Regions from separate parts of the Homo sapiens genome. Here all the other regions are linked to region 2. The links come from fine-mapping of genetic effects on gene expression. A gene starts in region 2. Each other region holds a variant in brackets. All regions are shown on one strand. Distances are between the middles of the regions.

Region 1 (11,249 bases), 210 kb after region 2:
GCCTGGAGAAAGTTCTTGTGGAATTCAGTCACAAGGAGTTGTTTGATTTCTATAACAAGGTCTGTATTTTTAAAATAATTTTCTAATATGTGGAGTTTTTTTCATAATATTTTGTTTCATTTTATGAATTCTTATTTTTAAATGTCATATTATGGAACTAAGTTCTTTAAACTTCCCTTATAAAAGACCTTATGTTTCACAGGAGGAAGTATAGCAGAAATGAAGAGAATTTGAAAAACTAAATCAGGAAGAAAAGGAAAATAGTTTTAATTAAAGCAATAGGATTGTTGCTTTAATATAAAACATTAAGTAATGAACTTTGTGATTCCTAGCCACACTGACACTTTAAATATATATAATGTCAAATACTTTAATTTCTGGGCCCAAGGGTAAAGGGAAACATGCCTTTAGAGATTTATCTGTGAGTATATTTCATGTCTCTTTCTGAAGACTGATTTTGTAATCCAGGAAAATATACTCCCTCCACCCCCCAACTTTAAAATATTATCAAGTAGGCAGTTCTTCTGCCAGTGTACTGCCACTGGAGCATGCGTGTGGTTATCCTGTTCAGCCCACCACCACTGTACCCACTCCCTCATATGTAAGCCTCCAATAAAACCCCATGTCTCATTAAAAAAAAAATTATGGAGTGATAATTTAAAAGGAAACAGCTGAAGACACTTAAAACAACAGTATTAAGAAATCTTCTTTCTTTGAAAATTTGAAAACTTAAATTTTCAAGCACAAATTCTAATATCTTCACCTAAAAAGAAAAATATTCTAAGTGGTAATTTTATTGCTATGTGAATGGATTTAATATTCATAGTTACCAGTGCTATTTTTTCCTTTCTATTTGCATGTGTCTGAATAACACTTGATATGAGTTTCGTTCCCTTCACTAACGTCTTTTTTTTTTTTTGTCTTTGTAAATAGCTAGAGACTATACAAGCACAGCTGGATTCCCTTACATGATGTTTTCGAAGACTGTTTTTTTCATCACGCTCCTGCCACCTCATTATTTTGCATTGAAGATACATTGCCAGGTTGTGTTTTCTGAAGGATTCAGTGACTTGCTTTCTGTAAATTATATGGCTTATCACTTCTTAGACAAATAACAACCAATAGAGATCATTGTTAAGAATACTGAGGTTCTAATATACTTTCTTTAGTTCTGTGAGCCAACAGTAATTATTAAGAACACTTTCCCTTTAAAGGAAACAAAAGTGAATACCATATTGTTTTTACTGTCATAGTGTTGCTTTCTTGCCTGTCCTGCTTAGTTTTTACTTGCTGGATGATACCATAATGTATCAAGGAGCGTCCATGGATACAAGATAAGATGTGTACCTTAGTAGAATACAGAGCTTTGGTAATTACATGAATAAAATTAAGAAAATAGCCATATACAATCAAATACACTATGGCATTTTTATTTGAATATGATGAGTATATTTTGCTTCGGAAATAATATAGGAAGGAAATGTAAAATAGTGAGTAGTATGGTATCAGTTAATTCCAGTCTGAGCTTCTCTGTCAACTTCAGTTTCTCTCTCAGTTTAATGATTTAATAATAGTCCAGGTTTTTGTGTGTTTTTCTTTATACTGCAAATTAATAATGATTCACTTTATAGTTTGGGAGACAGAATCAGGTCTTGAATAAAATAATTGTAATGAGTGCTAAATGGGCACCATTATTCGAATCAGATACCTTTTATATTCTCTTTCCATAAATACGTTGATTTCTGTCAATAAAATTTTTGTGTCTTAGGATTGGTTGAAGTGTACATTTTTTAATTATATACATTATAGTATATTTTATGCCATGAATGTATGTAAATGAATACATTTACGTACATTTGTTAAAATGTATGTAATGAATACATTTACATACATTTGTTTAAAAAAAACTTGAATTTTTTATGAATGAAATTTCTGTATTGTTTCCAAAAAGAGAGAGATTCAAACATGACTTGCTTCACATGAAGAAATTTGATTTCAGAAATGTCCTATATTTAAATAAGCAAAGCCATTGAAATTGAAGCACATTTCTTATTTGAAGCATCTGGGAAATACAACTGTTAAGTATCTCTCAAATATTCAGTATATGGAATTTATACCCACATTTGTTTGTATATCTATTTGTAAGCTGTTGCTTAGAAGAATTGAGAGTTTGGATTATTTCAGAATACAACTATTACAGTTTTCCATAGTTGATTGAAAGTTTTTAAACTCAAACTTTCATTGGTAGAATATCTGGAAGGCATGTTTGCAATATAATGTGGCTTGTAGGATCTCTCCTACTTTTTTACGCTCTGTTTTGCCAGTTCTCAAAAGTAAATACCTGAAGTCCTAGAGGTACTATAAACATTTTGGTAAACATTCTTTGAGACTTTTTCTCATGTACATGTAAATATACATCATCCCAAGTTAAATTTGATAGGCCTTCCTGACAGTAGCCATATAGATAAATAGAAGTTTTCGTTGGTTTAGTGGCAAAACTGAATTCTTAATGTAGGTATACAAGTTAAATATGATGGTTAGAAATGAAGTTTTCTGAAAGTAGTTCGTTGTATGCTCCCTAAAAGAATTAGCTTTATATTTATCTTAAGAATATCTCTAAACCTATGCAAAAATATGGCAAATAGTCTTCTTTCCATTAGTCTAGTTCAACAAAATCTGACTCAGAGACAGTAAAGAAAGGGCAAGTAGAAGATCTAATGCCAACTAAGAAGATAATTATTTCTGAAATATTTAGTTGAAGATAACTTTCTTTCTTAAGACATTACTGTTGTTATGATGCACAAGTCAAAGAACATGTGGCATTTCCAAAGAGTATTAAATGCATGTTACTTTTTTATAAAAATAAGATAAATGAGATTAATGGGGCTTGGAACTGCAATCTTGGTAAATAAAGTTACTGTATGTCTTTCACGAGTGTGTGACATGAGGATTGAATAGACAGAATTGCTTGTTAGAAAGAGGAACTAATTTTTGTATCTATTACAAATTATATTTGTAATTCTTCCCTAATTATAAATTATCATGATTATTTTTATTTGGGAAATACCAAAAAATCATAAATAACTAATCTAAACTTACAGAATCCTATCATCCAAAAATGGCCATTAATGACAGTTTGATAGATTTATTGCAGTTTTTTTGTATCCATTTATCTTTCTTGTTCATTTTTTCTTCTTTCCTAACAAATTGAAGTAATGCCATAAATTCTGTTTCATACTTTGCTTTATGTACCCTTACAGCATGAACATTTTTCATATCTTTATTGCCCAAACATAATTTTAATGTATATTAAATAGTTCATCATTTGAATGATCTATACTTTATATACTTTATATTTCTCAAAATAATTAAATTGTCCAAATTTTGGCACATTTAGATTATTCAAATTTTTGAACGTAGGGAACTCACTGATAAATATAATTATACATAAACCCTAGACCACATCTCTCGTGATATTATTAGTATAGATTCCTAGAAGTAGAGTTGCTATGTCAAAAGTATGAAGATTTATTTTCTATTTTCATCTTTAATCGGATTTTCATTATAAAAAAACAAGGCCAGGTGTGGTGGCTTATGCCTGTAATCCCAACACTTTGGGAGGCTGAGGCAGGAGGATCACCTGAACCCAGGAGTTTGAGAACAGCCCACGCGACATGGCAAAGCCTTATTTCTATAAAAAAATACAAAAATTATCCAGGCTTGGTGGTGCATGCCTATAGTCTCAGCTACTCAGGAGGCTGAGGTGGGAGGATCACCTGAGCCCAGGAGGTTGAGGCTGCGAGTCATTCTATCATCCCACTGCACTTCAGCCTAGGTGACAGAATGAGACCTTTTCTCATACATATATATATAGCTGCCCATTAAAACAAAGTTGCACCATTTTGCCATCTCACTTCCTGGAAGTACCTACCTAATACTGCAGACATTTGGTGGGTGCAGTAGCTCATGTCTGTAATCCTAGCACTTTGGGAGGCTGAGGTGGGCAGATTGCTGGAGCCCGGGAGATTGAGACCACCATGGTCAACATAGTGAGTCCTGTCTCTACAAAAAAAAAAAAAAAAAAAAAAAAAAATAATAATAATAATAAATTAGCCAGGTGTGGTGGCACACACCTGTGGTCCCAGCTACTTGGGAGGCTGAGGTGGGAGAACTGCTTGAGCCCAGGCAGTTGAGGCTGTAGTGAGCTGTGATCATGCCACTGCCCTTTAGCATGGGCAACAGAGCAAAACCCCATCTCAACACACAAAAAACCAGACATCTTATAATACAAATATACACACCTCTTGTGTATTTTCAAAAATACATTTATATTTATTTCAAGGCCTTTGATATATATTGCTAAATTGTTTCTCCAAAGGATTATATTAATTTGTACTCCCACAAACAATGAATGAGAACTCACTTGCCTCAAGCCACCTTCAGCAGCCCCTTCTTCCTTCTATACATTTCACCCTCAACATTTTTTATAACCTGAGGTCAGTGTTTGTTTAGGAAGAGTGATGGGACATATTGAGATATGTCACTTTGATAACTATAGAAGGATTGAAAAGGAAATCTCTTTAAAAAT[C/G]AAATATGAGAGCCAATAACTCAGTATTCAAGTGTAAGGGCTTCGAAGTCAGGCATTTATTTATTCAACAAGTAATCACTGCTGAGTATGGTGAATATGGTGGCAGGAACTGTGTATGCTAGGTACCATGTTTACAGTGATAGGCAAAACTAGTTCTTGGCCTCTTGAAATGTAATGTGTTAGTGAAAAGTAAACAAATATGGAATAAATGAACAAATATGGGACAAAATATAATTGGATTCTATTCAGAGAAAATTAATGATGGAACCAAACTTGGACTGGGGCATCAAGGAAGGATTCTCTGAGGAGTGAGATTTGAGCTGAGTCCAATATGATGAGTTAAGATGGCACAATAGTAGAATAGAGTGACAGGCATTCTAGAGAGAATGGCCCATGCAAAATCTCAGAGGATGGGAAAGGCTTAGCGCATTTCAGGAACCAAAAGGTCAGTGTGGCTAGAGTGTAGTGAACAGATGGCATAGTGGAGTGCACTACAATTAGGTAGACAGGGAGCCATTCTCTTACAAGTTTTGTCGTTTTTACCACCAAAATGTATTGCAAGTGTATCTCCAGGGCACTACCCTGTCCAAGCTGCCATCAACTTTGCCCTGGACCACCTTTCTTCCATTCTAGCCCTCCTCCAGTCCAGTCGTTGTACAGAGCTAATTTTTAAAAAATAACCTATTAATTATACCATCTCCCTGCCTAAAACCCTTCAAAGGATCCTATTACACATTAAGTAAAATTTAACGATCTGGTTTCTCAGGACAGTGCAAAGGTTATATCCTTGTTCTTCTACTTTGTGTGTGTGTGTTGAGCAAGTTAATTTGTGAAAGTTCACTTTACTTATCTTTGTAATAGGAATAATAATCTAACTAACATGAGTGTTTTGAAGATTAAGTGAAATTCATGTTAAACATTTAGCATAATCCTTGAATCTCAATCATATAATAAGCATTAGCTGACATTTTTATAATCATTAAGAAAATAAGCAGACTCTCTGTTGAAATTTTTCCAGGTGAAGTTTGAATTAGAGTCAAAATTGTAGAAAGCTTGCTATGAAGCCCCTTCACTTTAAACTTATTTGGCATTCTAATAACAACTCCATTTTATAATCACAGATTCTAACACAATGCCAATTCTGCTTTTATTTTTTATTTAAAAAATGAGGTAATACATGTATTATGGGACCAGAATGAAAAAAATACTTTCTTCTGAGTACCTTTCCACGTGGCTCTTCTGGCTCTGAGAAATCTTTTTCTCTACTCAGTGAACTTTGATTTCTTCTTACCGTAAATAATGTCTTCTACACTTTATTCATTATACCAAGGATCAGCAAATGATGGACATGACCCACCACTTGTCTTTGTAAATAAAGTTTTATTGGAACACAGTTGTCTTGCTACCAAACTCACTCTTGAGACTTTCTCCCTTCCTTGCTTTGAAGAAATAATACCATGTTATAAGAGAGGCTGCGGATAGGGCTACATGACAAGGAACTGAGGGTGACCTCTAGGGGCTGAGGGAGAACAGCCAGCAAGAAATTGAGGCCCTTAGCCTTATAGCCTCTATGAAATAAATTCTGCGAACAACCTTGAATTAGCCTGGAAATGGGTTTTCTTGTCGTTTTTTTGTTTGGCTTTGTTTTGTTTTTTTCCCTGTTAAGCTTCTGGATGAGAGCACAGTCCAACTGACTCTTATTGCAGCCTTGTGAGATTTTAAACAAAGGACCCAACTAAACTATGCTTGAACTCTACCCATGGTAATTGTGAGATGATAACTCTGTTGTTTTAAACCTCTAACTTTGTAGTAATTTGTTACGCTGCAATAGATAACTAAAACAACAGCCATGCTCAATTGTTTACATATGGTCTGTAGCTGCTTTTGAACAACAGCAGGGTTGAGTAGTTGCAGCAGAGACCATATGGCCCACAAAGCCTAAAACCTGGCCCTTTATAGAAAGAAAGGATGCAGAACCCTGCTTTATACTATGCTCTCTAAACCGGAGCATCCCTAGAGAAATAAAGTAGTTGGTAGGGAACACAAAAAGTCGTAAGATGGACGTTGTATATATTTCAATAGCATCACTTCTACTTTTTGCCAGAAGTAGAAGAAATTACATTTTCTATCCTCTTTTGCAGCTACTGCAGCCGTGGAACTAAGTGTTGCTAATGAATTGTGAATGGAAGTGATCATTCATCTCCAGTTGTCTTCCTCTTTCTGTGATTGAAACCCAGATTTGGAGCTGAGTCAGCTTTGAGCAGACAAGAATGCTAATGCTTAAGAGGTAGGGAGCAACAAGATGGAAGGAACCTGGGTCCCTGAATATACTTATAGAACACAGCTGTCTCCATGCCCTTGACAGAAATAAAATATCTTGTTTGAGTTATTAAATTTGGGGTCAGTTTAGGCTATACACAGCACGTTTGCCTGTAGCCTAACTAATATGGTGGCAACATAATTTTATTATAATTGGCCAGTAATGTACAACATATTTTAAAATGGAGATTTACATTTTATGGCAAAATGCATATAAATGTTAAAGAGGAAATGGGAAACCTTAAAAAACAGAACAAAACCTTTGTGCTTGCAGCCTGCGAATTCAGGCTAAATTCTCAGTGTTACTGGGAACCTATATTCACCTCCCTCCTTCAGTGTGGTTATTTTGAGACAAATGTTTTGAGAAACCATAAGGGTATATTGTAAATTTCCCCCAAAGTCTTTCCATAATTCTTTTTCTACTGTTGAATAAGAGGACTGGGATGGTTCTGATTTATTCAGATGCATTAGTCAGAAGCTACTCAGGAATTATAATTTAAATTTCTGATCAATTTTGCTTCCCTAAAACTTTGATTTTTTTTTTGCCATCATTATGCAAATAGTCCTACTCAATAGACCAGCTTCATTTAATGCTAAAATTAGGAACACATTAATTTGAGGTATTTTATAGTAAAGCTTAATGGCATTTTTAATTTTGGAGAATTTTAAGGATTTTTAACCATTGCTCCCATCTCGCCATATGCACACTCCTGAAGTATTTTTGAAGCTCTTTTGCTTTTCTCTGAACTATAAGGTTGTACTAGCTGTTATGGAGGCCTACAATCCAAATCTAAATGATGGCAGTTTTCATAGCCTACTTTGTTTTATTTGAAATGGAAAGTTACTGATTTTTATTTCAAAAGAAGTAGTCTGCAAAGACAGGAAAGGTGAAGCCAGTCCAGTCAACAAATCTGTAAGGAAGATGGTGCTAGAGGCTTAGAGAGACTGTTTCAATCTCCAAGGCAGGAAAAATAATGAATATATAATAATCTTCTTTTAGTGAAACCAGAGTTCAGTCATTTTTAGCATCTTTTAATGAGAACCTGATTTTTTAATGATTTTTAAAGATTTTTCCTTCAAAAAATCTAGGTAAAGGAAAGCAGTTAATAGTAAATTTAATAGTTGCATTTATTTTTTTCTGACTTATGTTTGTATTTTTTTAATTGGCAAATAAAAATTAAAAACACTGTACATTCTACCCAAAACTTTAAAGGAAAGTCAATAATAAAGTTTTTTAAATCTATGATAAATATAGACTTGCTGTAAGGCAAGGAGTGCAGTGATTTCTCAAGGCCTTTCCTCATCTCTCCTTCTGAGATTTCTAAGTTTCCTTTGTGCACTATTTTTAGTCCACATTTCAAATTATTCTGCAGTTTCAACCAGACTACATAAGGGGACAAAGGAAAAAGCTGCTGTCCCCTGGATAAGGCTGCTTTAACACATCAACCTTGGAAGCTCCAGCATTCCTCTCCATCCCAAGAATGTGTTTATGCTTTGACAGAGGAGCAGAGTAATTTCCAGCTGATCAGAGAAAAGGTGACTTGTGTATTCCAGACCATGTGTTCTACTTTGCAGTCCAGCTTCTTACTCTCTTTCATGCTGCTGCAAGTAGTTCTACGAACATTGGGGTGCTTTAGAAATACTGAATGAATGAATTAATAGAGTATGTAGTTTTTTTCTGCCTTGGGCTCTCTCCATTTATTTGCACAGTACTATCTAAATTCTTAAAATAATTGTAAACTTAAAGTTGTACAAAAGTAGTTTTCAAACTGGTTTAGCCAGCTATGCTGGTATTTGGTAATTCCATTAGGGAATAGCCACATCCCTTCTAGGGAGTATCTCCTGAGGTCACTGATCCTTTTATTCATCATCCAGGAGATAAACATGAGAATAAAAGCCTTATAACCAGCCAGAGACCCAGATTTCTGCCCTCCAGAAGGCTAGAGCAAGTTCTCGCATTGCTGTGAAGAGATTTATGATAGTCATGAAGTTGACCTACACATGCTTCTGGGTACTGATGCTGCAAGACTGAAAACAGTTACATTCCTAGCAATTTCAGAGTTGTTTTATGTGATAGGGTCAAAATGAAGTGCTCCAGAGAGACATCAACAACATTCTTATACTGAAATATATGTTCAGTGTGTATAGATTTTCTGAGCTCATTACCCAGAAGATTTTAATTTCCTGCTGAAAAGAGTATCTTGATTAAAGACACACATAGACACACACACACACACACACACTCCTGTACACACTGCCTACAAACAGGCTTTCCTCACTGATGTGGGACAATTCTGACAAAGTTTTTTTAAGTCTCCCTTTACATGGCACAGATTGTTCCAACTTATCACAAATATACCAGCTGGACAAAAATCAGATAAAGTTGACATAGATAGTACAGAAAGCAGGCAAGATAAACAGAGCCACACAGAAAGCTGTTCAGTAACAGTTTAGTTTAATTTTATGCAACTAAGACTGTGCCTTTAGATGTAGAGCCCAATGTGAGGGATCAGTTTCTTATGATAGAGTAATATTTATAACATCTAACTTTTCTACCTTATGGCAGAATGCCCTGTGAATCCTTGAAACTCAAGGCCTTCTTTGTCAGAGTTTTGGTTCTTACTGCAAAGTATGTTCTTTCCTTATGTCATCCAAACAAAGTAACTAGAGTAGTAAAAAGAAAGTCAGTGAGTTTGGATGCATTGGCTTTCTGGACTTGCAAATTATCCAGTGCAGGCATTTCTCACACAGCAGGCTTGGAGGACTCTGGGGGTGGCCACCTTTGCTAGATATGCTATTAACCTCCTTCATATGGTTGGGTCAGTGATCTTGTAAAGTTCTGCTTGGCAGGCTCATAGGTGTTGATAGGTGCCCTAAACTGATGGACCAGTAGAGGGTGGCCACCATCTGTGAGGTTATTTCTTCAGGCCCTCAATAAGCACTTACCCAAATGCACTGATTTTACAGTGCTGTGGTTCTGTACTGGATTCCATGAAGCACCCTTCCCGTCTCTGATTTTCCAGGATCATTTTCCTTAAGTTAATGCCATTCCTGTAAATGCATTTCTACTCTTTGATCCCTTTTCTTTAGTTTACACTTTCAGTTAAATCTGTAAGCAAGATAATCTTTGAAAATTATTTTAATTAATGTTTATATTTAGCTCTATAGTCTGTGTAAGGAGATCCAGGGTTACAAGAGTCTGCTTGAAAAAATAGAGCCACATCAGATCAAATTTTCTTTCCATAGGATTGTATTTTTTGAAATGTTAAAAATTCTCCTATAATTAAATATTTAAACCTTATTTCATCATTTTTCTAAGCGTTTTTACTTTAGGGTTTACTAAAGGAAGCCAAATCAATTTCATAAACTTCTCTGTATAGGATTTCAAATAGAACATTTTTATGGAAATAGGGTGAATATGTTATAGAGGAAGAAATGCTTCTGCCTCTCTGCCTACTTCCCTATTGGCCCTCTCTCTCGTTCTCCCACATCCTTTAGGGAAGAATGGCTTGCCATTCATGTTTGGTCAGTTAAAGTATTGGTTGGCCATGTTTATCGATGGCCAGATCAACCATAAAAAGACCATGCCCATGGATGGTGCTCCTTTTGCATTTCTTGTTTCCACTCTATGGGATGGAATAGAGAGAGTCCAGATTTTGAGGAGAAGCTGAGATGTGTGGGGAAGAGGGGCAGGTAGGGAGGGAGTGTCTTTCTTAGGCCTTAAGAATGAACCATATGCTCTTACCCAACCTTACCAAGCTCTGAAAGATAATTGTCATTTTGGTTCCCAGTTGCTATCAGTCTTCCTATGTGTAGCTCTTCTGGAAATGTCAGCATCAGGAGTGAATGGCAGGATAAGATTTGGGCATTTGTGAAGTTCTCTAGTCAGGTTCCATTAATGCAATCACAATTCCAGCCTCTGTCCTTTATCAGTCGTCTTAGCAGATCTGTCTTATTTTTCAGTGATAAACGTAGAGAGCTATGGGCAAAAACATCAAAGGTATCATTCATATCTTTCAATTCTCAAGTAGGCCTCGAGTAAGAGAAGAAGGCTTTGAAATCAGTTACTCTGACTCCCAAAGAAGACCTGCTTGACACTTCTAACTCTCCATTCTAAATGAGCAAAAATTTCATCTCCCTGAAAGCAGAGGGAAGACATTGCTGGGTCAGTTTCAAAGGCTCATTGGTTACCTTCCTGCCACAATAGACCATTGAGAGTCTCTGCTCCCCGTTCCTGGCATGGTGGAAACTGACCTTACACTCACCTTCCTCTATGTACTTCTGAGTGAGAACTTGAACTTCAACATCCCCCTCTAGCTCCCTAGGAAAGTGAAGAGGTATG
Region 2 (11,177 bases):
AGGATAGATTTGGGTGAGGATCCCTGGTGTCTTCAGAGTTCCTTTAGGGTTGGGGGAAGACTTCTGGGAGAAAAACACCCCAGATCTTGGCTTTACATCACTGGGTGTCAAAAATATAAATCACGCCTGATGGGGGGAGGGCGAGTGTACAGTGGCGCTGTAGGTAGAGGCCACTAAGGAGCCCTTCCAAACAGGACAAAGCTCACACTCAGAGGGAAGTTTTAGCTTCCAGGATACAGGGAGGGCTGACACCAGAACTTACTCCAAGTTGTGCCATGATGTACTCTGGGCAAACTAGGTGAATGTGAATTGAAAAAGCTGCACAGTAAAGACTGAAGCAGTTAGGGCCTAAGCACCTCTTGTTTTGAGACTCCACTAAAGGCTAGAACTGTCTCCAAGTTATGCCCCTCCCCAGGTAAGTTCAGCCCCACTTGTTTCCAAGGCTTCAGCATGTTGCTCTACTTTCCTGACAAAATGGCCCCTGGAAACTCTGACAGTTGCCATGGTTTAAAGCTCCTGTCACTCACTGCCACCCTTGGCAGGGCAGAGGGAGGGGGATAAGGAAGGGGCTATGGGCAGGGACTGAACCATGGGTTCCTCTTCTGCTATAGCTTCAGGACTCAGTTCCTATTCTATTGGAACCAGGGAAGCTCTGAATTTTCCAGTGGGGCTGCCTAGAGGCACCAGGTGACATATCCTAGAAATGCAGGAGCATGAGTTATAGGACAAATTTTGATGAAGAAAGAAAAAATTGGAAAGAGTTCACAGACAATTTCTTTCTTCCACTCCCACGCCATGTTGTTCCAAGACACAGTGATTCTGAATAGCCTCTCTGGAAATATCCCAGAGTACTGAGAAATAAGCTAGGTTTTGAAGCTGTAACCAGTTCGATAACATGCCACCCTGTATTTGCTTTCTCCTTACCTTTCCTTAGTTTCCCTTTTGCCTGCATTCCTACTCCCTTGCAATTATAGTTCCTGATGAAGGATGTATAATAACTAGGCTTGTTTTCTAGAAAAGTCAGGCTAATACAGAATGTAATAAAAAGTGGACTTCATAAAAGTTTGCAATGGATATTTTACTTGGCTGGCAAGATGGCCGAATAAGAACAGCTCCAGCATGCAGCTCCCAGCCAGACCAACGCAGAAAGCGGGTGGTTTCTGCACTTCCAACTGAGGTACCCGGTTCATCTCATTGGGACTGGATAGACAGTGGGTGCAGCCCACAGAAGGTGAGCAGAAGCAGGGTGGGACATTGTCTCACCCGGGAAGTGCAAGGGGTCAGGGAACTCCCTTCCCTAGCCAAGTGAAGCCTTGAGGGAAGGTGCCATCCGGCCCAGATACTACGCTTTTCCCAGGGTCTTCACAACCCGCAGACTAGGAGATTCCCTCAGGTGCCTACACCACCAGGGCCCTGGGTTTCAAGCACAAAACTGGGAGGCCGTTTGGACCGTGCTAGCTGCAGGAGTTTTGTTTGACTCCAGTGGTGCCTGGAATGCCAGCGAGACAGAACTGTTTACTCCCGTGGAAAGGGGGCTGAAGCCATGGAGCCAAGTGGTCTAGCTCAGTGGATCCCACCCCCATGGAGCCCAGCAAGCTAAGATGCACTGGCTTGAAATTCTCACTACCAGCATAGCAGTCTGAAGTCAACCTGGGACGCTTGAGCTTGGTGGGCGGAGGGGCGTCTGCCATTACTGAGGCTTGAGCAGGCGGTTTTCCCCTCATTGTAAACAAAGCCGCTGGGAAGTTCCAACTGGGTGCAAACCCACTGCAGCTCGGCAAAGCCACTGTAGCCAGACAGCCTCTCTAGATTCCTCCTTCCTGGGCAGGGCATCTCCAAAAGAAAGGCAGCAGCCCCAGTCAGGGGCTTATAGATAAAACCCCCATCTACCTGGGACAGAGCACCTGGGGGAGGGGTGGCTGTGGGTGCAGTTTCAGCTGACTTAAACATTCCTGCCTGCTGGCTCTGAAGAGAGAAGCGGATCTCCCAGCACAGCACTTGAGCTCTGCTAAGGGACAGACTGCCTCCTCAAGTGGGTCCCTGACCCCCATGCCTCCTGACTGGGAGACACCTCCCAGCAGCGGTGGACAGACACCTCATACAGGAGAGCTCCAGCTGGCATCTGGTGGGTACCCTCTGGGACAAAGCTTCCAGAGGAAGGGGCAGGCAGCAATCTTTGCTGTTATGCAGCCTCTGCTGGTGATACCCAGGCAAACAGCATCTGGAGTGGACCTACAGAAAACTCCAGCAGACCTGCAGAAGAGGGGCCTGACTGTTAGAAGGAAAACTAACAAACAAAAAACAATAGCATCAACATCAACAAAAAGGACACCCACATAAAAATCCCATCAGAAGGTCACCAACATCAAAGACCAAAGGTAGATAAATCCACGAAGATAAGAAAAAACCAGCGCAAAAAGGCTGAAAGTTCCAAAAACCAGAATGCGTCTTCTCATCCGAAGGATCACAACTCCTCACCAGCAAGGGAACAAAACTGGATGGAGAATGAGTTTGATGAATTGACAGAAGTAGGCTTCAGAAGGTGGGTAATAACAAACTCCTCTGAGCTAAAGGAGCATGTTCTACCCAATGCAAGGAAGCTAAGAACCTTGATAAAAGGTTACAGGAACTGCCAACTAGAATAACCAGTTTATAGAAGAACATAAATGACCTGATGGAGCTGAAAAACACAGCATGAGAACTTTGTGAAGCATACACAAGTATCAATAGCTGAATCAATCAAGCAGGAGAAAGGATATCAGAGATTGGAGATCAACTTAATGAAATAAAGCATGAAGACAAGATTAGAGAAAAAAGAATGAAAAGGAACGAAAAAAGCCTCCAAGAAATGTAGGACTATGTGAAAAGACCAAACGTATGCTTGATTGGTGTACCTGAAAGTGATGGGGAGAATGTAACCAAGCTGGAAAACACTCTTCAGGATATTATCCAGGAGAACTTCCCCAACCTAGCAAGGCAGGCCAACATTCAAATTCAGGAAATACAGAGAACACCTCAAAGATACTCCTCGAGAAGAACAACCCCAAGACACATAATCGTCAGATTCACCAACGTGGAAATGAAGGAAAAAATGTTAAGGGCAGCCAGAGAGAAAGGTCAGGTTACCCACAAAGGGAAGCCCATCAGACTAACAGCGGATCTCTCTGCAGAAACCCTACAAACCAGAAGAGAGTGGGGGCCAATATTCAACATTCTTAAAGAAACGAATTTTCAACCCAGAATTTCTTATCTAGCCACACTAAGCTTCATAAGCGAAGGAGAAATAAAATCCTTTACAGACAAACAAATGCTGAGGGATTTTGTCACCACCAGCCTGCCTTACAAGAGCTCCTGAAGGAAGCACTAAATATGGAAAGGAAAAATCAGTACCAGCCATTGCAAAAACAGACCAAAATGTAAAGACCATTGACACTATGAAGAAACTACATCAACTAATGGGCAAAATAGCCAGCTAGTATCATATGACAGGATCAAATTCACACATAATATTAACCTTAAACGTAAATGGGCTAAATGCGCCAATTAAAATACACAGACTGGCAAATTGGATAAAGAATCAAGACCCATTGGTGTGCTGTATTCAGGAGACCCATCTTGTGTGCAAAGAAACACATAGGCTCAAAATAAAGGGATGGAGAAATATTTACCAAGCAAATGGGAAGCAAAAAGAAGCCGGGGTTGCAATCCTAGTTTCTAGCAAAACAGACTTTAAACCAACAAAGATCAAAAAAGACAAAGAAGGGCATTACATAATGGTAAAGGGATCAATGCAACAAGAAGAGCTAACTATCCTAAATATATATGCACCCAATATAGGAGCACCCAGATTCTAAAGCAAGTTCTTAGAGACCTACGAAGAGACTTAAGACTCCCACACAATAATAGCAGACAACTAAAAGGACTTTTCATGGACATAGATGTCTATATTCCAGAGAATGCAGAAATATCTTGGGTGAGGTTCTCATTTGAGGTGTGAAACTATTCACAGCATCACGCCTTTATAGAAACATGGTAATAAGAAGTAATCAGCCCATCATTGAAAATGAAGAGCATTAGAGTGAGTCGCCTCTGTGTCCACTGGAGACTTGCTTTTGTGAACACCTAAGAGGTCTGGGTTTTGTTTTCTAAGGAGGGTAGAATGTTTCTTTTACATACGTACCACATTATTTAAATCTCATTAAGATCCAAGGGAGCAGACATTATTCTCATCCCCATTACAGATTGGGAATGAGAAACTTGTTGAGGTTAAGTACTTTGTCCAAGGTTACATGGATTTGGGATTTGAGCCATCTTGATGCTCTTTTGCTCAAAATTCTGGCTATATATTTTTAAGGCAATCAGAGGGTGAACTTCATTAGGGATTTGAAACAGTTTTAGTTGGTTAGTGGTTCTACTTCAGGTAAGGAATCAAGACAAAAGGGAAATGATTCAAAGAATGAGGGAACTGGGACCCTTTTAAGTTGCAGATGAGGTCATCTGTGTTTGGATCAGAGACCTATAATTTATGTAGATTCACATACATCTTTTTCAGATATGCATACATTGGGGACTGTAGAGTGTTGTGGAACTAAATGTATTTGTATGTGTTCAACACACTGTATAATTGACTCAATTATCCATGTGGAGATTATTCAGATTTAATGTGCAATCTGGTTTCTCCTTTCAGTTAGGTTGTTCTTGGGCTGCTCCAGGAACTCCAACTAATTTAAATAATAATTTAAGTAAAACATAATTAGGAAGGAAAATTAAATTCAATTTTTTGGCAGCTCTTGAATATTCTACTGCTGAAACGTAACTAATCCATCCACTATCTTTTAATTCACCAATGCCTTTTTAGTACCACAGGATTTTACTGCTTTCTATAGATTATTGCAGTAGTTTCCAGGTAGCTCTCCTGCTTACCTCTTTCCATTTCAATCATCATTCTGCTGACAGCAACCTTCAAAAATCCAACTCCCACTGCAAAATTTCTTTGGTTCAAAACATTTAATGGATAGAAAAAACATTTAATGCTTACCCATTTCTCACCAGATTAAGTGCACATGCCACAACCAGTCATTAAAGGCTTTTTCTAGTCTAAATTCCTGTTCTTCAAACGTCAAACCGCCCTTCTACTCTACTGACCTGAAACACACAGCCTCACCCTCCACATCTCTGCAGACCCACCGCATTTGCCACCTGCCCTAGGGAGCTTTTCCTGATCTTACCTCGGATGCCTTTCACTGCTCCCACATCTGAATTCCTTTAACTCACTCCATGTTTTTCTCAAAGGCAGACCAAGGTATTTATGCAAACATGGTGTCTCCCTAGTCTTGGGTGAGGTCTTTGACATCACTCACTGCAGCGATTCATCTCCCCTACTCTGCACTGTCAGACTCTAAAGAAGGGTGCAACAAATACTTGTCCATTTAGACTGCCGGCAAACCCTGAGGGCAGGAATTTTGGCCTTTTGTATCTCCAGTGCCTAGAACAGTGCTTGGTACACAGTAGGCACTCATTCATTGAACGTTGCTGAAGGAATTGAACGTACATACTACAAGCCCTGCAGATGCAGATACAGGAGGGGTTGACGGCACAGTGCTTAGGGTGGAACTGGAGGCACCACCTCTCCTGAGGGGTGATGCGCCGCTTCCTGGGCAGGCTCGGGGGAGCTCGCTCAAATGCCTGCCTCTCTGTAGCCCAAACGCTGGAAAAAAAAATACTCACAAATCACCTATCCAAGTATGTACACACAGGCTCACTTAAACCCGCCCTATTAAAAAAATATACACACGCACACACCATTTATCCAAGTATGTATACACGGGCTTGCTTAAACCTGCCCTATTAAAAATAATAATGTATATATTTATGCACGAACATACACACATATATCTATACAGGTCTGTACATAGACTTGCTTAAACCTGCCCTATTAAATACAGACACACACCCCTATCCAGGTATGTACATACATATATAATATATAAATATAAAGACATATATATGCACAGACTTAACTCCAACACGATTGGAGTGTCGGGAGGGCAACTGGGCTGCCCTCTCCGCCCTCCAGGACTGCGGGACAAGTCTCCCGGCGCCCGGGTCGCAGGAGACCCGGAGCCCTAAAACGGCCCCTGCGCGGCTTGGGCCTTCCGGCTTTCCGTCCGCCGCGGCCGCCATTGGCTGGGTTCGGCGCAGCTAACAGACGGCGGCAGTGCGAGAAAGCCGAAGATGGCGGTCCCCGCGGCGCTGATCCTACGGGAGAGCCCCAGGTAGCTGATCCGTTAAGCTCTTGCGGTAGCCGCGCCCAGGAAGGCCCAGATCGGGCTCGCACAAGGCTGTCCTTGCTGCCTGCCGCCTGGGCGCCGCGGCGGGCCCGGTTGAGTGGGGTGGGGTGGGGTGGGCTGCCGAGGTTGCGACGCTGCGTCTGCGGAGTGCGTGGGGCCGTGTAGCGCCTCTACAGTCACGGTGGTCCACCTGTGGGGCTCACAGTGCGCCTGGCAGCTGAGGTCTGTACGGAAGCGTGTGGTCTGCAAGCGTGGGGTCTGCGTCACTGTTCGCGGAGTTTGGTATCAGAAGTTCCCGGGTGCTGCCTTCAGTGCTGCCGAATCACGTGGAACGGTATTCCGTTTCCGATTTCAGTTCCGGTTCAGACACTCTGGTGGGAAAGGCTCACGCTGCTGCTGGAGGGTCTTTAATAGCCAACATGTGTTAATACCCCTTTTAAATCAGTATCGAATAGGGGACCGAATTTTTGGTTGGTAGAAGAATCTAGCCTGGCTTTGGTAGCATTTGCTTTTATTTGCATTTTAAACAGATTTTTAGTTAATTTCTACTTATGGTAGATAAAGTTGGTTGTCCATGGTAGTGATATAAAGCTCCCCTTTAACATTATTTAAGTAAAAAAAGACTCAATTTGTGAAAAAATAAGCAATAGTGCAGGTAGCGTGTGGATACAGAAAAAGTACTGAAGTATATAGGCAAAATAGTGTTCGGAAGTAATTTCTTTGTGCTTGGATTGGGTAGAAATCTTTCAGAAGAAAAGAGTTATTTTAAAGTTTTTCCTTCTTTCTGGATTCCTTTTGTTACCAGTGGAGGGTGTCCAGGTTCTTGGCGTCTTGAACAAAGAACTGGAGAAGACGCACAAAGAAAGCGAGGAAAGAATGAAGAAGACATTTATTGAAAATGAAACTACCCTCCACAGTGTGGGAGCTGCTTGAGCATAGGGGCTGAAGGGCCCCTACAGAATTTTTGGGAATTTAAATACCCTCTAGAGGATTCCATTGGTTACTTGGTGTACTCCCTATGTAAATGAAGAGGATGAAGTAAAGTTACAAAGTCATTTTCTCCGCCTATGCCATATGGAGAGGACATTTCTTGTCATAGCTGAAGTGGGAATCAGCTTTATGTTCCCAGCCTCCTGACCCTATTTTCCTGCCTCACTTTGGTTCTGATCGCCAGTTTCTTTCCTCATACCAGTGTCTTGGGGAACACCGCTACATCAGTAAACTGTATCCAATATGGTGCAGTATAGAATTGTTCTCATCACATCATTTAAAGTTGATTATTACAGGAAAGGTGCTGTGGCTCATGCCTGTAATTCCAGCACTTTGGGAGGCTGAGGCGGGCTAATCTCTCTCTCTTTTTTTTCCCTGAGAGGGCGTTTCCCTCTTGTTGCGCAGGCTGGAGTGCAATGGCGCCATCTCGGCTCACTGCAGCCTCCGCCTCCTGTGTTCAAGCGATTCTCCTCCCTGAGCCTCCTGAGTAGCTGGGATTACAGGCACCCGCCACCACGCCCAGCTAATTTTTTGTATTTTTAGTAAAGATGGGGTTTCACCATGTTGGCTAGGCTGGTCTGGAACTCCTGGCTTCGGGTGATCTGTCCTCCCTGGCCTTGCAAAGTGCTGGGATTATAGGGGTGAGCCACTGCAGGACTGATTGAGCTCAGGAGTTCAAGACCAGCCTGGGCAACAGGGCAAAACTCTGTCTCTACAAAAAATACAAAAATTAGCCAGCGCTGTGGCCCGCGCATGTAGTTCTAGCTACTTGGGAGGCTGAGGCACAAGGATTCTTAGAACCCAGGAGGCAGAGGCTGTAGTGAGCTGAGATCGTGCCACTGCACTCCAGCCTGGGTGACAGAGTAAGACCCTATCTCAAAATTGATTACTGTTGTAATAATAAATTTGATTTTACAGTTGAAACAGGGTTTTAAAATAACTGTGTGCTTAGTGACCCCAGATGATTTTGTACATAGTATTTGAAAAGTTATTTGCCTTGCAGTATTCTTTTATGTTTTTGGTGTAATTGCCATAATTGCTATTCCTCTCCTCCCACCCCTTTCAGAGTTCCATTTTTGGGTTAAGTGTTTATATAAACGCTCTACTAAATTAAGGCTCTTCCCTGCGCAGTACAAGGTTTCCCTAGTAGTTTGGTTTGCCCAAAAGAAAGAGAAAATTTGCCAAATGGACCTTTTCAGCAGAAGTAATTTTGGGGGCATCTTTTTGGAAATGTACCCGTTGCCCTGCCTTTTTTGCTGGCTGTCATCTGTTTTTATTTCACTCAGATTTACCATATAGCATTCAGAGTTGTTGGAATGAAAACTTATAGACAACTATAGAAAGTGCAGTTCAACTTGGAAAACTCATTTCAAAACTCTGTTTTATAATTTTGTTTAGCATGAAGAAAGCAGTGTCACTGATAAATGCAATAGATACAGGAAGATTTCCACGGTTGCTCACTCGGATTCTTCAAAAACTTCACCTGAAGGTTTGTATTTGTGTGTTTCCATGCCTTGTAATCTTCCTTCTGATTTAATTGAAAGTCTGATTATTTGGAGAACTTTTTGCAAAGCATAGTGTTCTCCAATATGTTCTTAGAGACACTGGTTCTGTGGAAGATTTGGTAATGTTTCATGGTCAGAAGTTTGAGAAACTCTGTCTTCAATAAAGTTAAATGTTTTAAATTATGGAACTTTTCAGAGTATTTTATATGCTAGTGTTTGTGGTATGTATTCGAGGGTGATTATGGCAGGTAACATTTTCCAAATGTGTTTGACCTTGGATCTGTTTTATTATGGTATATATTTTGGGACTAAAGTTCTAAAAATATACTTTAGGGAAAAATTCTGATGTCTTGGTTTTATTTTTCCGCTTAAAAATAATTCTGTGGTATTTTCTATCAACTGGTATTTAATCTTTCACTTAATTTTGTTTCTCTTTCACTTTTATTTTAAGGATATGGTTGTTTTGGACATGTGGATGCTTTGTAATTCTCTACCTGGCCCAATCCAAGTTAATTTAGTTAATTTCTTTATCAGGTTATAAAAATTTGATTCCATCTCATATTTATGGAGCACCCACTAACTGCTCTGTGCAGTGCCATGTATCACCATCCATTGAGAACCAAGACTCTTACTCTGTCATCTTGTTTTTCTTGGCCAAGAGCCAGCCTCAAAACTGTGCCTTTCCCCTTTGAAGTGTCTTTCAAATCCAAGTTCTCACAATTCTAGGTCAAATCTTTAGTACCTCTTTTTTAGATGACAATAGTTACCTTCAAGCTGGTTTCCCTGCCTATAGTCTTCTTGCTTTCTACTGCTTCATAATACTATGTAAATTACTTTCTAAATTTTTTTTCCTGAAACAAAGATGTATTATATTTTTTACAGTGTTCAAAGCCATCAGTGACTGTCCATTGCCCTATGGAGAAAAGTTAGAAATCCTTAACATTGCGTACAAGTCCCATTGTAGTATGGCTGCAGTCTACATTCTCCTCATTTTGTAAGTGCTGCAGTTACACTGGATGGTACCCATTTACTACAACTTGCCATGAACTTTTTCAGCAATGTGTCTATGCATATACTCTTTCCCTTGCCTATAAATGTCCTTCTTCCCCTTTACTGAGTAACTTGTTCATCCTTCAAGGATTTCACAATCTCAGTCTCAGCAGTTTGTTCTTTCTTCTGTGCTCCTAGTTCATTCTCACCTGATTTTAGTACTGCATCATAAGTATTTGTTTCATGATTAGCAGGCAACCAAATCCCCAAACCTATTAATGTGTCTTCCTCTGGTTTTAAATATCTTGAGGATTATGTCTTACTCATCTTTATGTTTCCCATTCCTAATACATTGCTACTAGTATAGTTGGCACTCAGTAAATGTTCTTGAAGTTAATTATTTTCCTTGCTGTGGAAAACACAAAACAAACCTAAGTCTTCTATAATATATTCCTTTTTCTAAGGAATTTGTGAGGTGGATGGAGAGAAAGGAGAAACTGCAATGATAGCGGCAACATTCTGTGGTATTTGCTGTTCATAAAGTTACATTGGCTTGTTTTTGACTGTTGTGGTGCTAATGGCTTTGTGTTACTAACTCATCTAATCCGTATGGCAACTTGAAAACATAGGTACTGTGGTCATCTCTGGTCATCTTCATTTTATCTATGAGGTAACCAAGATAGAGATAGAGATCAGTTAAGTAACTTTCCCAAGGTAACACAGCTAGCTAGTTGGGCAACTTGGCTCCGTAACTCTCTCCCTTATTACACGAAACCTCAGGAAAGAGTATGGAACATTTCATAAATTGGCCCAAAAGTGAATGATGTGGGTAATACAGATATTCTGCTTTATTTCTTCAGCTGGTGGGTGCTTGCTTATGTATAAAAATATGGGACAAGAAACTCTTATACATGTCTTTTGTTCTTCACACTGAGGGAGTGGAGAACTTGCACAGAAAATTGTGATGTTTAGTTTGTCTTTGACACTCTCAGTCATGTATGGAGTTGAGAATAGTTAGTATCTATCTTAGAGTTAACTGAGTGGCTAAAGCATTCCATGGAGGAGCTTGAATGCTTTGCCATCAGAGGTAGGGGAGTGGAGAGGAGAAGAGGTGCTTGTTGAAAAGTGAAGTTACCCGTCCTGCTGGCATTTAATGTCCAGGGACTTTTAAATAAAGAAACATATGTATGTGAATACTTGCCTGCTAAGAAGACGTCAGGAAAGGTCTAATTGTTTTTTTCCTGTACAGTTTCAGGGGATCTTCTTTTAGAGGGGCTCCTATTTTGATAAGGGCTTTTCAGTCAAGTTTGCAGTGCATTTCAGGATCTGCCTACTTTCATTTATGTATCCCGACTCCATCGAGTTGGCCTTTACCTTGAGACAGAATTCTTAGAATAGTGAA
Region 3 (8,000 bases), 190 kb after region 2:
TGCCCATCAGTGATAGACTGGATTAAGAAAATGTGACACACATGCACCATGGAATACTGTGCAGCCATAAAAAAGGATGAGTTTATGTCCTTTGTACGGACATGGATGAAGCTGGAAACCATCATTCTCAGGAAACTATTGCAAGGACAGAAAACCAAACACCGCATATTCTCACTCATAGGTGGGAATTGAACAATGAGAACACTTGGACACAGAGAGAGGAACATCACAAACCGGAGCCTGTTGTGGGGTGGGGGGAAGGGAAAGGGATAGCATTAGGAGATATACCTAATGTAAATGACGAGTTAATGGGTGCAGCACACCAACATGGCACGTGTATACATATGTAACAAACCTGCATGTTGTGCACATGTACCCTAGAGCTTAAAGTATAATAATAATAATTTAAAAAGATAAAAATGCTTAAACAGAAAAAAAATTGGTTTTTACTGTCATGAATTTTTCCCACGTTTATGTTTATTAACAACTGACACAAACAAAACCTGTACAGAAAGTACTCTTTATTATACACTTTATTTCAAAGTACTGAAATAGTGTTTTATGATCATAGTATTTCTAGAGGAAAGATTTTCTCCCAAGCCTTTAAGGGGAAAGCTAATCCACTTGGAGAAATTTTGGGCCACCCACCAAACCTGTGATTTCCTGCCCCAATTTATGAACCAAGTTATACTGAGATCGTTAAATGGTGTGATTTCTCCTTATGACTTTCACATTTTACTTTATAGGTTATATTGACTTTTAGATTTCAGGTAGTAAAATAAAAAATCTTATGCAGTTCAAGTTAGAAAAATTGGATTAGTCCAAGTGATATTTTCACCTGGTATTTTTTTTCAGGCATTTCAATGTTACTTTTTATTACATTTATAAAATTATATGTTTTAAATTGTATGGTTTTCCCTTATCTTTTTGAAAAATACCATACTGATTCATCTCAAATATTTTAGCCTCTTCTTAAGTTTCCCTTTCCCCTCAACTTTTCCGTAAGCGCACAAAAGAAAGTATTGATTTTTGCCAATTATTTTGGTTGCTGAGGTTGTAAGCCATCTTGGTTTGCTTACATGTAGGTTATTAAAGTACCCTTCCTAGTCTGACTTGCCAGTCTTACTTCTCTACCTTTTGTTAGAGGAATAAGGGATGAGGATGAGAGAATTAATATATATTTTTTACCCCATTTCTGCATATTTTAATCCCATCTCCAGAAACCAGGTTAATTTCACCTCTGTCACAAATTTGAAAGGAAGGGAAAAGATGTATTAATTGCCATTTTTATTGTTATTTTCTGACTTTCAAGCCTTCTAATCTAAGGTTAGTAAATGGACAGCATTTAAAAAAATATTCTTGTTATCTTGACATAATGAAGAATTATGTTTTTGAGTATTTTGTCCATTGTTTCTTATTTCCTACTTTACATTTTTATTTACAGCAAGGTTTTATCCTTTTACTAAAGGGAAGGAGATGGGATGAATGGCAGACTTTAACTGGATGCTTTATTTAGGCTTTTCGAAAGCAAAAAAAGTTTATACATTGTTACAGCTGGGTGTTGGGTTACAGGCTGTTTGTTATATTCATGTATTAGTTCCTGTTATTTTAACATTTTAAATATTTCATAATTGAAAAAGGAAAAATTAGACTGGGACCAGTTTATAGAAAGCTTTAACTTCTAGGCAAAAAAGGTAGAACTTTACAGTTGGTTGTGGAGAAGATATTGACTGTCTTTTGTAGAGAGTAGCATTTCGAAAAACTGAATTTGGCGTCTGTATTTAGAACGGTCTAGAGAATGGAGATACTGATGAAAAGGAATGTTAGCAAATTCAGCATTCTGATTTCTGAAAAATGAGTGCTTAGATTAGGTAGTGGCATGGGGACTAGAAAGAACAGGGATGCTGCTGCTTTGTATAATCATTCCCATTATATAAAGGTTATATATAAATTAGGACGGACACGGTGGCTCACACCTGTAATCCCAGCACTTTGGGAGGCCGAGGTGGATGGATCAGCTGAGGTCAGGAGCTCACGACCAGCCTGACGAACATGGTGAAACCCCATCTCTACTGAATACAGAAGAATTAGTTGGGCTTGATGGTGCATACCTGTAATCCGAACACTACTTGGGAGGCTGAGACAGGAAAATAACTTGTACCTGGGAGGTGGAGGTTGCAGTCAGCCGAGATCACACCATTACACTCCAGCATGGGCAACGAGCAAAACTCTGTCTCAAAAAATAATAATAAAGATTATATATAAATAAATAAAATCACACCATTTAACAATCTCAGTATAACTTGGTTCATAAATTGGGGCAGGAAATCACAGGTTTGGTGGGTGGCCCAAAATTTCTCCAAGTGGATTAGCTTTCCCCTTAAAGGCTTGGGAGAAAATCTTTCCTCTAGAAATATATGATCATAAAACACTATTTCAGTACTTTGAAATAAAGTGTATATTAAAGAGTACTCTCTGTACAGGTTTTGTTTATGTCAGTTTTTAATAAACATAAACATGGGGAAAATTCACATGATAGTAAAAACAATTTTTTTTCCTGTTTAAGCATTTTTATCTTTTTAAATTTTTATATATTTAATATATAAAATATATATAAAATATAAATATATATTTATATTTATGATTATATAAAATTCCTATATCTTTATATTATCATTTCCATAACCATTTTAGTAAGCATCCCCAAATAGAAGTTAGGGTGTATTACTAATTCTGCTTAATATACTTTGTATACTTTTGTTTCCTATCTCAAATCTAGTTTCTATTATGTAAGTATAAGTACCCTCCATGAATTGGGTTAACATTCTAAACCATGACCAGACTGAGAGCATGACGACTAATGTGGTTTTTACTCCTAAGCTACCAGTATGGAAGATCAACATTTAAGAAGGCATTAGTCATCTGTGCTGCTGAAAATAATGGTTTCACATTAGTCTGGACCAATTAGAAGGAGCCTATGTCTACTTGGAAGAGTTTGATTTGCAGCATAGTCCTTGGCTGCTTCTACAAGACTTGGCAAACTTTTGTTTAAGTCAGACCCTGCTTAAATGTCTAAAAGGAAACTCTTAGGCCATTATTTCCCCCTACTTTACATAATATTGCTCCATACAAACATTCCACTTTTACAAAATCATTTACTTTTTCCCAACTCTGTGATACAAATGAGTTATCTTTTCGTAACCACCAACCTCTCAGTTTTATATTTGTTAGCTCAGATCTGACATGAAAGTAAAAATTACTTATAACCACTTTGGGATTACACAAATTTAACCTGTTCCCATGTTGTATTCAGTCCTCTGTGAAATACGAGGGTACTTCAAAAAGGTCAAGGAAAAATTGAATTAAAATATAAAAATAAAAGATGCAAATTTTATTTCTCAACATAGGCTCCATTAAGGTCGAGACACTTTTCTAAGCGATAATACCAGCCATTTAGTCCATCCCTCATTTCTTTTGGAATTGAGGAATTTAGCCATGTCAGTGCAGTCTTTTTGTACCTTACTAACTGAAAAAAATGGGTATTCTTTATAGATATTTTTAAGATCAGGAAATAAAAAGTCAGAGGAGGCAAATCAGGTTTGTAAGGGGGATGCTTAATGGCTTCCTATTGAAACTCTTGTAAAATTGCTCTGTGTGATTAGAGGAATGAGCAGGAGCTTTGTCGTAGTGGAGGAGGACTCTAGTGAAGCTTTCTTAGGTGTTTTTCTGCCAAAGTTTTGGCTAATGCTCTCAAAACACTTTCATAATAAGCAGATGTTATCATTCTTTGGCCTCCCAGAAAGTCAGTAGGCAAAATGACTTGAACA[T/A]CCCAGAACACTGTTGCCATAGCCTTTGCTCGTGACTGGACCACTTTCATCTCTTGGTAGCCATTGTTCTGACTGTGCTTTGTCTTCAGGATCATACTGGTAATGCCATATTACATATCCTGTTACCATTCTTGGAAGAAATGCTTCGGAATCTTTATCCCACTCATTTAAATTTTCATTGAAAGCTCTGTTCTTGTCTGCAGTTGATCTGGGTGTTGTAAGAGTTTTGGCATCCATCTAGTGGACAGTTTGCTGAACTTATTTCTCAATCACAATCGTGTAAGCTGAACCAATTGAGATGTCTGTGGTGTTGGCTCTGGTTTCTGCTCTTAATTTCGGTTCTCTTAGGGCATGAACAAGATTATTTTTTTCCTCTCAAATGGATGTGGATGGTCTGTCACTGTGGGCTTCATCTTCAATGTTGTCTCGTCCCTTCTTAAAACAAGTTATCCATTTGGAAACTGCTCATTTCTTTTGGGCATTGTCTCCATCAAGTCTTTATAAAACATCAATGATTTCACCACATTTCACCCACAATTCATCTTAAATGTGATGCTTGTTCTTGCTTCACTTTTAGAAGAATTCAGTTTGCTCTGATAGGGGCTATTTTTAAATGAATGTCCTATCCTTCTTAGTGCCTCAAACTAGATCCTGTTCAGACATACTGTAAAAAGTTAGTATATTTTGGTGCAAAAGAATTTTGAAATCCATGCATAGTTTTTTCATAATATGCATTTTTCATGAGCTTTTTGAAGAACCCTCCTTGTAATGTATCTTAATTCCCTATTCCATTAAATCTATGATTTTGAACCAGCCATATGTGACCTGTAATCAAAAAGTGATGTTTGATAGATGCTGTCACCATTCTGTCATTTTTCCTCATCCAAGATAGAAGATGTCTTCGAAAGCTTTGTATATGTTCCAGTCCTATAAAACAATTCTACAAAACAATTTCAAGTTCAAAATTATTATTGAGAACTTTTAAACAGGATATTTAGAAGTTTGTTTTATTAACTTGGCCTAGGTCACAAAACTCATTAATATTAATGACTAGACTACAGAGGCATGTAGCCTGTCTAAACATTAACAGATACAAAACATTAAACCAAATTGTGAAGCTTCGTTATGCTATGAGTCATTTCAGGCAAAGACCAATATAGCAAGCAAAAGCTGAACAGTCCAGTTGAAATGTTTCTGATCTAAGCCTTTGACTTCTGTTTGTAGATGAACTGGAGTTTTGAAACTGACACTCAAATTTTTTATTGACTTCATATGAATAAATGATTCATTAAAATATAATACTTGGAACTAAAGTCATCATTCAAAAAAGGCATTTATTATTAATAAACTACAGAAAAGAGAAAATTTGAGGGTACAATTTACTTTTTTTAAAGTATCTTAAAATTGCATTTATTTTCTCTTAGAGAACTTTAGATGATATCAGTCATTACTAATGTCATAAAATGTATGTAAATATGAGCTAAGTGATGTATTTTATTTACCCAAAGATATGATCTAACAGCCTCTGCAACTGTCACCAACCTTTCCTATAAAACAGCAATATATTAAATGATAGTGAAGAGGGTCTGAAATTTCAACCTTGAGATGCACTTACACTGTATTCAGTACAGCAGATTTATACTTCTACTTATATATCAACAACAGGTCTTTCTAACTGGCAAGTCTTGTGGTAAACATGAGAAATATGGATGCTTATTAGGTCACTTTTGGTAAATAGAACTAATAATTTGAGACATTTGTCTACAATAGAGTTTGGCAAACTTTCTTCTGTAAAACACCAAATAGTAAATTCTTTAAATTTGCAGACTATACAGCTCTGCTGTTACAACACAAAAGTAGGCTTAGACACTATATAAAAGAATGAGTGTGGCTGTGTTCCAATAAACCTTTATTTACAAAAACTGAAAGTAGGTCAGATTTTTCCCAAAAGCTGACAGCAGGTCACACTTGGCCTGCGGACTATCAATCCCTGAGCTACATTTGCTTGATTTTCTTACTGTATACTCATTCCTCTGTTCAGCTGGGCTTGGCTTTTCCCCATCACTGCACCAAAATACTTTTGCCAATATCAGTAACATTCTCATCATTGAATTAAAATGAACACTTACCAGTCCTTGTCTCATTTGGATTCTTGGGAGCAGTTGACATTCTAATCAATCTGTCCTTAAAATTTTTTCTTTCTTTAGTGTCCCTGACCTACCTCTAGTTTTTAACCCACCTCTCAAGGCAGTCTCTTAATTATTGGTGTGCCTTAAGGATTTATTATTGATCTTCTTGACACATTTGCCTTAAGCAGTACTTTGTGTTACTATAGCTCTAATTTCTGTCTGTTTTTCTCCCTCCTGAGCACTCTTAAGTATTAATCTGTAGCCCAGATTCCTAATTTAAATACTGAGTTTGTACATCTAATGGCCTGCTGGTATTTTCTACATGCTTATCCAAAGATACTTGGAAATACCTGTCTTAAACTGAACTTGAAATTCCCAACCTCTATTTCATCCCCAAGATTACTTCCCTCAACCCCCATTCTATCTCAATGAATGGCCCTACCCATCTTTCACTTGCCCAAGGCAGATACTTGTGCTTCATCTTTGATTCCTAACTCTTCATCTCACCCATGTCTTTCATTGAAAGAATCAGTTTTGTGGATGTACCTCCAAAATAGCTCTTAAATCTGTATGTGTTATAGTCTGTTGCTTCTATGCTAGTTCAAGCCACCATCATCACAAATTTAAATTACTAGTAGACTGCTCTGCTTTTCCCTTTCATGTTCTCTTTTGCTGGTGGGAATATCCCCCATCCTGCTTTATTCCCAATAATTTATCTTTCAGGTATCAGATTAGATATCAGTTCTACTAGGAATCCTTTATTGACTCCAGAATGTAGGTGTAGTGTTTGTTCTCTGTGCCCTATACTTTGCCTGTTAGGGCAAAGTATGTCATTTTGTAACCTCAGTTTATTTGTCTCTATTGGACTCGTAAGCTCAAGGAAAACAAAGATTGTACACATTGTCTTCATCATTGCTGTAACCCCAACACCCTAGCGTGTTGCTCGTAAATCTATGTTGAAAACAAGTGAAATTAGTCTCAATATCCATAAAATACACCATGTTCTGTATAAATCAAAGCACCAGAACATATCTGATGGCTTAATTTGCACTCAAAGTAAGTATATAATTAGAAAGTTGAATAAATTAATGAAATAAAGATGTCATACTTCACAAAGTTGTATGTAGAACATCAGATCCTAAATCATAAGGCATAAACTGCTAATGGCCAGATTTGCTTCACCATATGTTAATGAGCGTACAAGTAATCACTGTGCTTATAAGTAATATAAGTATCCCCTATTCTTATTTAATCCTGGCTCCTTTTAGAGGGAAAGTAAAGAAATAAACTGAAAAAAAAATGTATATATATATATATGGTACTACCCTTGACCTTAAGGAACACACTATGTTTTGGAAGCCTTCATTGTAAAATGATCGTAAGTACTAACACAGGTATTCTTACTGTGCTGTACAGCACCAAAGCAAGCAGCAGGTGGATAGGAGGGGGAGAGGAAATCAGGCGAGGTTTTGCAGAGGAGGTAACACTTCAGAAGAGTCTTAAAGTATCAGTAAGACATTGCCAGAAAGAAAAATAAAAATTAATTTCAAATAAAATATATATAAGCATGTGAAGCATGATTGAGAAATATCTTCTTTTTTTTCTTCTTTTTTGAGATGGACTTCTGCTTTTGTCACCCAGGCTGTAGTGCAATGGCACTATCTCAACTTACTGTAACCTCCACCTCCCAGGTTCAAGCAATTCTCCTGCCCCAGCCTCCCAAGTAGTTGGGATTACACCTGGCTAATTTTTGTATTTTTAGTAGAGACAGGGTTTTACCATTTTGCCAGGTTGGTCTCAAATTCCTGACCTCAGGTGATCCACCCACCTCAGCCTCCCAGAGTGCTGAGATTACAGGCATGAGCCACCATGCCCAGCCGTATCTTCTTAATTGTCAAAGGAAAATCAAAGTGTGTTAGTAGCATTATCATATATTATGTTTTTGTGTCATACATGATTTTTTTATTCTAAATTTTAAAATCTAACCTTAATTCAGTTATTTAAATTAAGATACAAGCCTTGCTAAACAGAATTTTTACTGATA

Direction of the effects. Positions count from the first base shown, and alleles are read on the strand shown. Sizes are in standard deviations (SD) of each study's normalised expression. Not every link is listed here.
With allele A in place of T in region 3, the expression in monocytes of the gene that starts at base 6,207 in region 2 is higher (moderate effect, 0.66 SD a copy in Quach 2016).

Evidence for each region.
Region 1: its variant is fine-mapped to the expression of COMMD10 in whole blood (TOPMed, PIP above 0.99).
Region 3: its variant is fine-mapped to the expression of COMMD10 in monocytes (Quach 2016, PIP 0.91).

The regions. Positions count from the first base shown.
Region 1 is chr5:116,291,518-116,302,766 of GRCh38, forward strand. COMMD10 (COMM domain containing 10) reads left to right here. Exons shown (of 7, transcript NM_016144.4): 6 at 1-59; 7 at 934-1,770. The coding sequence ends at 972. Among named protein-coding and RNA genes, the nearest start is that of MIR12130, 41 kb to the left of the region's middle. The variant C/G (reference allele first, on the strand shown) is at 4,589.
Region 2 is chr5:116,078,819-116,089,995 of GRCh38, forward strand. It overlaps COMMD10 (COMM domain containing 10), which reads left to right and starts at 6,207. Exons shown (of 7, transcript NM_016144.4): 1 at 6,207-6,275; 2 at 8,679-8,769. The coding sequence starts at 6,235. RefSeq lists enhancers at 6,001-6,160, 6,454-6,748.
Region 3 is chr5:116,268,701-116,276,700 of GRCh38, forward strand. All of the region lies in intron 5 of COMMD10 (COMM domain containing 10), which reads left to right. Among named protein-coding and RNA genes, the nearest start is that of MIR12130, 17 kb to the left of the region's middle. The variant T/A (reference allele first, on the strand shown) is at 3,828.